3 linked regions of the Homo sapiens genome follow. The protein of the gene in region 3 interacts with the protein of the main gene of each other region in a pairwise test. Each region holds a gene or a part of one and is shown on either strand. Other genes may lie near its edges. The genes, in order: ERMP1, MFSD6 and TMEM237.

Region 1 (3,657 bases), on a different chromosome or scaffold from region 3:
AGCCCATAGCCCTAATTTCTTTTTTTTGAGACAGAATCTCGCTGTCGCCCCAGCTGGAGTGCAGTGGCTCAATCTCAGCTCACTGCAGGCTCCGCCTCCCGGGTTCACGCCATTCTCCTGCCTCAGCCTCCCGAGCAGCTGGGACTACAGGCGCCGCCACCTCGCCCGGCTAATTTTTTGTATTTTTAGTAGAGACGGGGTTTCACCGTGTTAGCCAGGATGGTCTCGATCTCCTGACCTTGTGATCCGCCCACCTCAGCCTCCCAAAGTGCTGGGATTACAGGCGTGAGCCACCGCGCCCGGCCAGCCCTAATTTCTAATTTTATTTTTGCCAAACAAATTTATGCATTTGAAACCATAATAATATAACAATATTCTCAGTATAAATCATTTGGAACCCTATTTCCCTTCCCTCTGTTTTCCTTAGCAATGTGTCTTTTAACTCCAATGACATACATGCATGCAGAATCTGAATCAACAATATACAGTTAAAAAGAAAAAACAGTGAGGGAAAAACTGAAAAAACTTTAAGTACAACATTCTTTTAGGCAACAAATACTTGCTGTGTGTTAATGCTGTGTGTCAGACACTACCTAAGCACAGAGGATACAGAAATAAATAAAACAATCCCTATCCTCAAGGAGCTTACACTCCAATGGAGAACAGATATTCAAATAACATAAATAAGTGGGTGAGCCCAGGACATATTTACAAACACTGCAGCAAATTCAGTAGAAGGCTGTGCTAACAAGCCTTCCAGTCACCACCACCCTAACACTGTTAACAGCCCGGCTTTATAACCTCATTTGAATTTTGTGACATTACCCTCAGAATAAGAAATCTTTCAGAAAATTAACACAGTGTAGGTGCGTTTTCCATAACCATGCTGAACAATTTTTTAGCACTCAAAAGGCCAAATACAATGAATCACACTTAAGTTCATCTTCAGTCCCTGGAGGCAACAGAAAGAAATCAACAAATATACCAAACACTTACCATGTAATAAAATCTTTTCGCAAGAGTATGTATAAGTATTATTTTGGCTACAGTTGCAGTTCCATACAGACAAACGGAGACATAGAAGTGGTTATACCATGAGAGAGACTGTCCAATAAGAGAGATGAACACTGCTATAATGAGAACGGTAACAAGGCTAGTGAACCAGCTGATCAAAGTGATGCCAAGTCCACACAAGAAGTCCTTCTTGTAGTTACCAGCTAATGAAGAGAAAACAAAAAGTTGAAATCACCATCTTCATCAAATCAGTTATATAACCAGTCAGTAGAGCTAAATGGGCAAACATTAAAACAAAAAACTCCCCACTGTACTTGAAAAGTATGAAAATGTCCTAGTGTTGAGATTGGCCAAACACAAGAACAAGGGAGGTATCAAATAATAATATTCAGGTAACATTTATTAAGAGTCTCTAGATACTAAACACTCAAAAAGATAAATCTTCTAGGAATAGTTCAGGTACATTCCTTATGAAGGAAGAGGATAGTCTTAATCTTCTTCACTTTTGGTATGCTTTGTGTATCAAAATATTAGCAAGAATGGAAGGCAAAGTTCCATATAAAATGTTGTTAAAATAAGGTAACATAAGAAGATAAGGAGTGTGGGGAAAATAAGCGTTGATAAAGAATTATTTAAACTGCTGCTAAATATTTTATCTCGTAACAGCACACAACAACTTAGACTCTGAAACATTTCAAGCAGAAATATTTCAAATAAAAGAAACAGTTTAACCACAAGCAGTTCATTCATACTTCGTGACACTGGTCCATACTAGCTATTGGTCTGTAGTGTGGACTTTTTAATGGGACTTTTCATTAGAAGTCAATCTGTACAAACCATTTTTCAATAGTTTCTATGTGGTACTTTTATGGAGTGCCTAAATATATAAAAATTGACTGCTTCACCAAGACTAAAAGTAAAATAAGCATATTAATTTAATATTTAAAAATTTCTTACAATATAAAGCAAACATTGTCTTAAGATTTTTAGCTTTCTGGGAAGATATAAACAAACTGACTGAAAAACTTCAAGCACATTCTACAGCAATGCCAGTATTTGTAGTTTTAGAGGAAAATACTTACTCTTATGTTTGGGCTGCAAAAATTTTTTGCCCAGGTACAAAACAACACCCATTACCACCATGTAGTTTATGATTGAGCCAATACGAGAGGGGTAGGCAATGACAAACAGGCCCAGCACATCAAAGAAGACCATGTTTCCATGTCGATACTTAGAAGCAGCAGCCAGCATATCAGATGTAGCTAGATGCTTAAGAACTGCTAAAATGTTGTCACCTATTAGTAAAAACAAAAAAAAAAAGAAAGAAAAGGAAAAAGATAAAAAGGCTGAATAAACTATTTGTGATTTACACATACCACTATTTAAAGCAGAAATAAACCATATACTGTTTGAATGAAGAAATGGTTAGAAAGAATGTGAACAGAAATCGCTTTCTACCATCCTACTGCTCTCCCTCACTTTTTTTACTAAATTTCTCAAATAAGGTCCATCCCCTGCCTTTCTCCATTTCCTCTCCACTCAGACGCTCAGCCAACTGGCCTGTATCTTTTCCCTTCTATTAGAACTATTCTCTGTGATCAATTGTACCTTCATTGTTGACAAATCCAATGGCTGTTTCTTGGTACCCATTCATTTAATAATATATATTAACTGTACTAGACACTCTTCTAGATATCAGAAATTTAGTGGTGAACCAAGAGACAAAGGCCTTTCACGAAGCTCAGAGATGCTGAACAAGCTGTCACACATGTGTTAAAAATTGAGGAGAGCTAGCAGAGTTCCACAGGAAAACATCATGGGAGACTAACAGAGCTACATTCTTACCACTCAGCAATCCTCCCAACCCTGGGCCAACTCCTTTTTCATTTCCTCACAATGAATATTCCTGACCTTAATTGCTACACTAGACTACAAGACTAAAATTCAAGATCTCATCTCTCCAACTCCAAAGCCCTAGCTCATTCACATTGCATACTGCCTCTCTAATGCACAGGCCACAGAATATTTACAAGTTTATGTATCATCCCTAACATTCCATCTTAGTGTATATCAAAAGTCTAAATTGGAATACCAACCTGCTCTCTGAATGGAATCTGTTAGAATTCTGTCCGCTGTGTCATACTTGGTGTGATAAATGTATCCATTCTCAATAAAAGCTAAGTCTATTCCTAAAACATATATATAGAAAAAAAAAAGTCATTTTGCTTTAAAGATCAACCTTGCTTTCGACCTATTTCTTTAATAAATTCCTAAAAGACAAAATGTCAAAGCAGTGGCACGATTGCTTTGTCACATTTACAAACGACTGATATAAATTCTCTTCCAAATTCTTACACAGTCTATAGCTTTGGTACATAATTCGATACATAATGATTGAAGAAGTATATTACTCCACAGGTAGGCATTACAAGTCACACAGCAAGGATAGGAATATTGAGTTTGGGAGGTCATGAAAATTTTGCCACCTACATTCTTGCCAGGCCAGAGCCAAATTTTAACTTCAAATAAGTTGTACATACAAGTTGCCAAGGGAGTTGGCAAACCAAGACAACAACGAAAGACCCCTGAAGGATCTATTACCATCTTTTGGGAATGAGGTGCTAAACAGTTCACCCCTGTTCT
Region 2 (3,657 bases), about 11 Mb from region 3:
AAATCTTATATCCATATCATGGGAAAATAGAACTTAACTACATGGTAAAATGCATCATGTTAAATGAAAGAGCAGGACACAAACCTCTCGATATAGTACAGTTTATATTTGTAAATCTATGTAGCTCAAATAAAATGTATTTTAGAAAAAGACTCGATAAAAATGACACCAAAGTGTTATCAGGGATTATCTCTGAGTAGTAAAATTAGGACTTATTTAATTTTTTTCTTATACTTGGCTGGATTTTTAAAAAATCATTATTTATCACTTTAAAAATACATATTTAAAAAGGAATTATTTTAAATATAAAACATTTGAGTGACAATTAGGATGTCCTTGTTCCCGGAGTTCCTGAAAAATTATAGAGTTATTAAATTGAGGTCTGATCATTCATCTAATGCCTTGTGCTTCCCAGTATACGGAATTGAAAGGGACTGTCACAAGGACTTTGAGACACTCTTAAAAGATATGCACACCTTTTACAGGGAGCCTCATTACACAGAAAATAAAATTGAAATGTGTCATGTTTACTCATTCAAAAGAATCATAATAAAGTCTTTTATTTAAACTCCCTTATAAATGTGAATTGGGGCATATTTGTTCATTAGTTAAACACAATTGCACAGGCATGATTTTGAAATAGAATTAAGAAAGGCACTCCATAATAGCTAAAGAAGCTTGCCTTTGCTGGATTGGAGCACGTTAATCAAGAACACAGCGCTTCTTTATTTTATGTTCCAGGACACATGTGCAGGACATGTGGGTTTGTTACATAGGCAAACGTGTGCCATGGTGGTTTGCAGCACCTACCAACCCATCATCTAGGTATTAAGCCCCACATGCATTAGTTATTTATCCTGATGCTCTCCCTCCCCCTGCCACCCAACCCCCCAGACAGGCCCCAGGAACACAGTACTTCTTAAAAGTCATAGGCAGCATGCATGTCACTTTGTATGATTCTGCTTTATGTGTTTGGTGTGGTGCCTTCCTCCTTTGCTCTACCTTGAGCCAAGTACCTTGAGGCCAAGTATGTTCTACCTTAACTTTGTCCCTAAAAGTGCCCTGAACAGTTAAGAATTCCCAGCGTGACTCACAGGGACCCACTCCTGCCACTGCTCCAGTGCTCAGTTTCTCCTGGAATCCTGGGCCCTGACTGCCATGTCTCCTCTTCACCCCACAGTATAGCAGGGCTCATGGTACATTGGTTTATTGGAGCTCAGAGAGAGCAGGCCCCGTGCAGAGTGGAGTGCACCTGCCTGTGGAACAAGGTCTCTCTACATAACCAACACAGACTGCTAACTACCAGTCCAGGCTCGCCACTCACTTTCCTTTGGCACGGTTAACCCACACATCGGGCTTGTTCAGGCAGCACCAGTTCCTCCTTTTTATCCTCCTCAAAGCCACACACCAGAGCTCACTCTGCCCACTGCTGATTCATAGTGTCCCTGTCTTTCCCTGTCTTTCCCCCATCCCACTCTTGGTCTCAGATCAAAATGCTTCCAAACATTTCCTCAGAGTCATTCAGAGCTGGCCTTTCCTGTTTTGTACTTGCCAAATGTTTCCTGAATTGGTCTCCCATTCTAAAACATGCCCCACAACAAATGTCAAAGAAAGACATCTCTGCCCCCCTTAATTCAATTTTTTTCCACATCTCTTGAACATGGTTTTTTAAGGGTCTGAATTTCTTCCCATCTTTGCCCTATTCTCCCCCATTCTACCCCGCCCCTCCCATCCTAAAATGCAGCAGGACCACCAGGTCACAAGGTAATACAGAACTCTCACTCACATCTCTTCAACATAATCATCAACACGTGGCTCAGCTAGATTTACATCATAATGGATCAAGGCAGGGAGAGGCTACTTTGAATACATACAACATTGGGATGTAGTTTTTGTTGGTGCTGAGGTAGAGGTGGGGGTTTGGGAGGGTGTGCTCTTTTTAAAGCCATAACATAGCAACCAGTAACTATAGCAGACACATATTAACATATAGGCTCAAGGTTTAGGTGTTCCACGTTTGTAATTATTTATTATTTGGTTGGCTTTTCTGTTTTGGCCCCTGCACCAAACATCACTTGTCTGAACAAATGACTGGTAGATTCCAAAAGTTGCCCAGCCAACTTGAGACAATGCCATTTTGCAAAAACAGTAAATAAATATCATCCAAATGTGGGCAATCAAAAACAGCTACAAAGCAAATGTTACTGAATCCAGCAGTGGGGCTAAGTACTGGATAACGTATCATTCAGAATTTAGGAAAACAAATCAGGCTGACACAAGCCCCTCTCACCCCCAAAATGCCAGTAGAGTAAATGGGAACAGACAGCTAATGTTGGATAATTAAACATGGAGGAATTATAAACTCAAAGGAAATGTTCTTGGTGGAGGCATTAAGGTGTTTTCATTGCCCCACACAGAATTGACATCAGATGTGTTTGTTTGCTTTTCCCAGGAATCAAAAATGCTATGCCCAAGGAAATGCCATGTTAGTTGAGTTTGAGGAAGAAATTTTACCCAAACTGGCCTTGTAGTAGGGTAGGACTTTGCACTTGATTTCTGCCTTTAAAGATAACCTATTGAACAAAGTTTCCTAAATTAAAAGATGGAGATTTCCTTCTGCCTAAAACATAATTAGAACCCAAAATGAAATGTTGGATAATACCTAAAATTGTGAGAATATCTCTTCTGTAAAATACTTTTACAATTCCCTCTTTCTCAAGATTACCTACTACCACAATGATAATTAACCAAGTTTAAGCATGTGTTTTCTTGATTCTGAAAAGTCTGAATGTATTATGGCTCTGGATTTCTAAGTCTGGAAATGTATTAATTTTTAAGGATTCTAAGCAGTGGTTTTAGTTAATTTTACATAGAATTGGATAGAACTATGGGACTGTATTTAACAAGTACATATGCATCAGATTAGTTTAACTTTATGATAACTTGCTTCTCCTAAATTGTTACTAAAAATAATTATACCTAAAGTCATCCAGAATGCCATAATTTCATGAGATGACACAGCAGGTAAATTGGTTTCTCCAACTCCTACCTTCTACCAGATTGTTCTGTACAGAACAATCATGCTTCCAAAGACAGCCACCACTAGCAAGACCAGGAAGAAAGAAATTCTTATCACCCCTAATCAAGCAGATAAATTGTGTATGCTCCAAAGCATTCTTATTGAGGAGGAAAACTGAGGAGTTGTAGAATATGCTACAGTTACTATTAGAAAAAGTAAAAGCCAGTCACCTGAGACTCTTTACCCTTTGCCCCCCAATTCTCAGTATGCCACCTTTCACTTTGATCTCCTGAGTCTCATTTCACTTCCCTAACATTAGAGTTTAGGCACATTCAATTTTATCTTACTTTGGATTGTTATAAAATCAATTAATTCTAGTCTTCTTTTGTTTTCCTTTTTAGTTTATATAATAAGAGAACACATGCTTGTTCCAAAAACAAAATTTTAAGCCCAAACATAACTTTATAAGGTAAAAAGCAAAAACATCCTCTTTTCTCCATCTTGTCTCACTTCCTGAAGATAGCCACTGTCGGCTGGGCGCAGTGGCTCATGCCTGTAATCCCAGCACTTTGGGAGGCCTAGGCAGGGGAATCATGAGGTCAGGAGATGGAGACCATCCTGGCCAACATGATGAAACC
Region 3 (3,566 bases):
AGATTCCCAGTATAATGTTCACTCCAAATTTAGACCTATTGTCAGGGTCAACTGTCTCTATCATCAATTTGTCAATCCTCTTCTGTTCTATAACATTCAGGTGCTTGCTAATCAGGGCAGGCTCAATAGTTTTATTGATGTGCTCAACAGCCTTTGAAACATTTTTTCCCATAGCTAGTCTTCTCCTCAACTTGAGCTTTAGGGTCTCATATACAACAGCTGAGGTACCATTGGATATAGTTCTGAAGAGATCTTTCCCAGTGCAGGACCCATCTCAAGAGGGGGATTTCCTGGAAAACCAGAAACCTCTCTGACAAAGAGCTGGAGAACAGAGATGGTGAATTTCTACTCCTATTTCTTGTCACTCAGAAAAAAGGGACAGAGGAAAGGGTACTGCAGATGTCAACTGGGAGCCCACAAGCTCACAGGTCTCTCCTTTATTCCCCTGAGCCTTGCCCTGCTCAGCCTCTTTTGCTACATAGATTTTTAAAATCTCCCTCTATGATCCTGATGTACAACCAGATATGAGAACCACTAGTACAGATTATAATGAGAAGCAACTTTTTAGTTACTTCTAGGTAAAAAATTTAGGTTATATAATTTTTCAAACAAAACATACATTCCCTTTTTATTGGTCATAATGTAGAGCATCTTTCAAGCTAAATTATATTATAATTATTACATGATACTCAATCACTAAGCCAGTTTCAGAAAAGACAAACTTCATATTTCAATTTATTCAGTAAGGGGAGGTCAAAAATGAAGGCTTTTTTCCCTTCTACCATATTCGCTAAATTTATGTTTAAACCTGATATATATTTTATAACACTATTTAAGTTATGGCTTTTTCTAAACCAGTGCTTTTTAAGGTAATAGTTATAAATACAACTGTTTTGAGAAAATAGGAAATAAACACTTTCACTTGCTGGTTTCTAGTTCATTATTCCCTTTGTCATTAAGATGATAATGCTAGACAAATTAATGTTTAGACATAAACAGCAAACACAATTTTAACATTTTTCATAATATTGAGAGATGTTTCAGTATTATATAATCAAAAAATCTATTACAAATACACATGTATACATCTTATAAAAATACATTTAAAAACAAAAATGGGACAAATACTGGGTCATTATTCCTCCAAAGGTGAGCTGGTATTATGAAGAGGCTTTGATTTCTTTCTCTTTATCAGGATATTCTTCCACCTCTGAGGAGAACATTAACTCTGGAGAAGAAAATGAACAGATCATACTTAAAATTGTTTCCCAGTACCTCCAACAGAGTTGTATAGCTTATTTATAAATAGTCCTTTAAAAAATTGACATAATATATACTAATAGAAAGCCCTCAAGTAAGATTTCTTGACAGTGAAATATGATTTAAAAGGTAAGCTGATAACAAATGTACAAGTTTTACATTTTAAAATATTTAAATTTTAAATTATAGACCCCTTAAAAGTAAAATGTAATAGAGACAATATACACAATCCTACCTGGAAATTTAAGTCACTTAGAGAATCAAAGATCATTAAACAGCTAAAATGTCTAATTCTACAGTGATCAGATCATCTGAAACATAGGGGACAGATACAGAGGAAGGACTTGGAACTAACAAGAGATGTGTGCCAGGATATTTTAAATGGGTCATCCCATTTAATCATCAAAACAACGCAAGAAGCCAGGTATTATCATCTCATTTTATACTTACTTTTTAAATCCACATGTTGTATGACTAACATGGCCTTAAAAGAACAGGATTCTGGAAATATTTAGACTGAATACTGCACAATCCAGATGCAGTTTTGATCCCAGCCACAATGTAGAATGTTATTAGCTGACATTTTCTACATTTAAACTATTACTTAGCATAGATGTTGGCGAAATTCTGCATGCTAAGGCTTCTGAGGCAGATAGGTTGTAAATAGTTGGTCAAATAAAAAATAAAATAATAACCAAGACCCAGAAAATATCCATAAAAGATGTTTGGCCAGGCGCGGTGGCTCACGCCTTAATCCCAGCACTTTGGGAGGCCGAGGCGGGCGGATCACGAGGTCAGGAGATTGAGACTGTCCTGGCTAACATGGTGAAACCCTGTCTCTATTAAAAATACAAAAAATTAGCCGGGCGTGGTGGCGGGCGCCTGTAGTTCCAGCTACTCGGGAGGCTGAGGCAGGAGAATGACATGAACCCGGGAGGCGGAGCTTGCAGTGAGCCCAGATCGAGCCACTGTACTCTGACCTGGGCGACACAGCGAGACTCCATCTCCAAAAATAAAAAATAAAAAAAAAAAGATATTCAAGGGTAAAACTGTTGAACATTGGCCAAGGAAACACAATTTACAATACAAATACTAAACAGTTCCTCAAGCAGCATAAAAGGTTAGCAGTTTGCTAATATGATGATTCTTCTTCAGGTGTTCCAAAAGGGGTCTGGGGACTAGAGATGAGTGAATCACTGCACACTGAGCATGTTAAAAGAGTACTAAACACTGTTAGCCAATGAACGGTTAAGAATTTGTACCAAATAGAGAAGGAAGAATAATTGACTTGAGTATGTGTCCGACAGAGAGGCTATGTAGACAAAGCATGATTTATTTCAAAATTCATCAGCAGGAGACTAAGAGAAGTGAAGAGCAAAGACTTTTTCTACATTACTTGAAGGGTTCCAAGAGAAGAAATACCTCCTGAAAATGCACAAGGGCCACAGAAGCCCCTCATTAAGTAGTTCCAGACTCAAGCCCTCCTAGACACTCCTCCCTGCTTCTCTTGGCATTCTGTTACACCACTTTATTTTCTCTCTTCTTGTATCATTTTAATTTAAATGTGTCTTTGTTATTGGAATATTATAAGCTATACCTATTAAAAGGAGGTTTATAAAACCATTATAGAAGATTTCAGGATATTCTTATGCTATTTTTTTTCTTTAATACCTTCACTAAGATCCATGCCTGGCCTATAAGACAAAAATAGCCAAGATAATCCAACCAGAAGAGCCACCACGAGATTCACCACAATCCATGGCTGGAGAATCTGTTCCTCAATTCCTGCTTCCCTAAAAATGTAGAAACACTCATTAGAAGTGCCTTCAGTTTGGTTCATATACACAAATATATCTATTTTATGAACTTTAAGAAAAAACAGCAGTCCTCTCCTAGAGAAATAACAAGTAAAGTGTGAAAGAAAATATAATTTCCCTGTAAAATATACCACATATATAATGAGAACAAGGGTTCAAAGGTTATTTAAACTCTGAACAGATCTGCTGTATACATTCATATAAATGCAAAGTTAGTATTCCCAAGAAAATTCTCTAAAAGTTTTCCTTCCAACTACCATGACATTAATCCTCAATAAAGTATCTTTGCTTTCTCTTTACCTAATGTCCCTAGCCACTCTCTCAAAAAAGACTACTTTTGGATGCTACGTGCAGCATTTGGGGAAAAAAAAAAAAAAAAAAAAAAAAGACTGCTTCTCTAAGTTTTATGAACTATAATCTCAGCCATCCTGTCAGCTTCATGGCTGGCCGCTGATCTGCAGATGTTGGCTCTCCCTGTTCCGCTCTTTC

What was found.
Region 1: the proteins of TMEM237 (region 3) and ERMP1 interact in binary tests that used the Homo sapiens proteins (3 or more experiments, as listed by UniProt).
Region 2: the proteins of TMEM237 (region 3) and MFSD6 interact in binary tests that used the Homo sapiens proteins (3 or more experiments, as listed by UniProt).

What each region holds. Positions count from the first base shown.
Region 1 is NC_000009.12:5,809,015-5,812,671, forward strand, and holds part of ERMP1 (endoplasmic reticulum metallopeptidase 1), read right to left. Parts: intron 3,204-3,657; coding exon 3,111-3,203; intron 2,310-3,110; coding exon 2,097-2,309; intron 1,218-2,096; coding exon 997-1,217; intron 1-996. UniProt on the Homo sapiens protein: Within the ovary, required for the organization of somatic cells and oocytes into discrete follicular structures.
Region 2 is NC_000002.12:190,411,351-190,415,007, reverse strand, and holds part of MFSD6 (major facilitator superfamily domain-containing protein 6), read right to left. Parts: intron 1-3,657.
Region 3 is NC_000002.12:201,623,095-201,626,660, forward strand, and holds part of TMEM237 (transmembrane protein 237), read right to left. Parts: intron 3,054-3,566; coding exon 2,932-3,053; intron 1,229-2,931; coding exon 1,161-1,228; 3' UTR 1-1,160. UniProt on the Homo sapiens protein: Component of the transition zone in primary cilia. Required for ciliogenesis.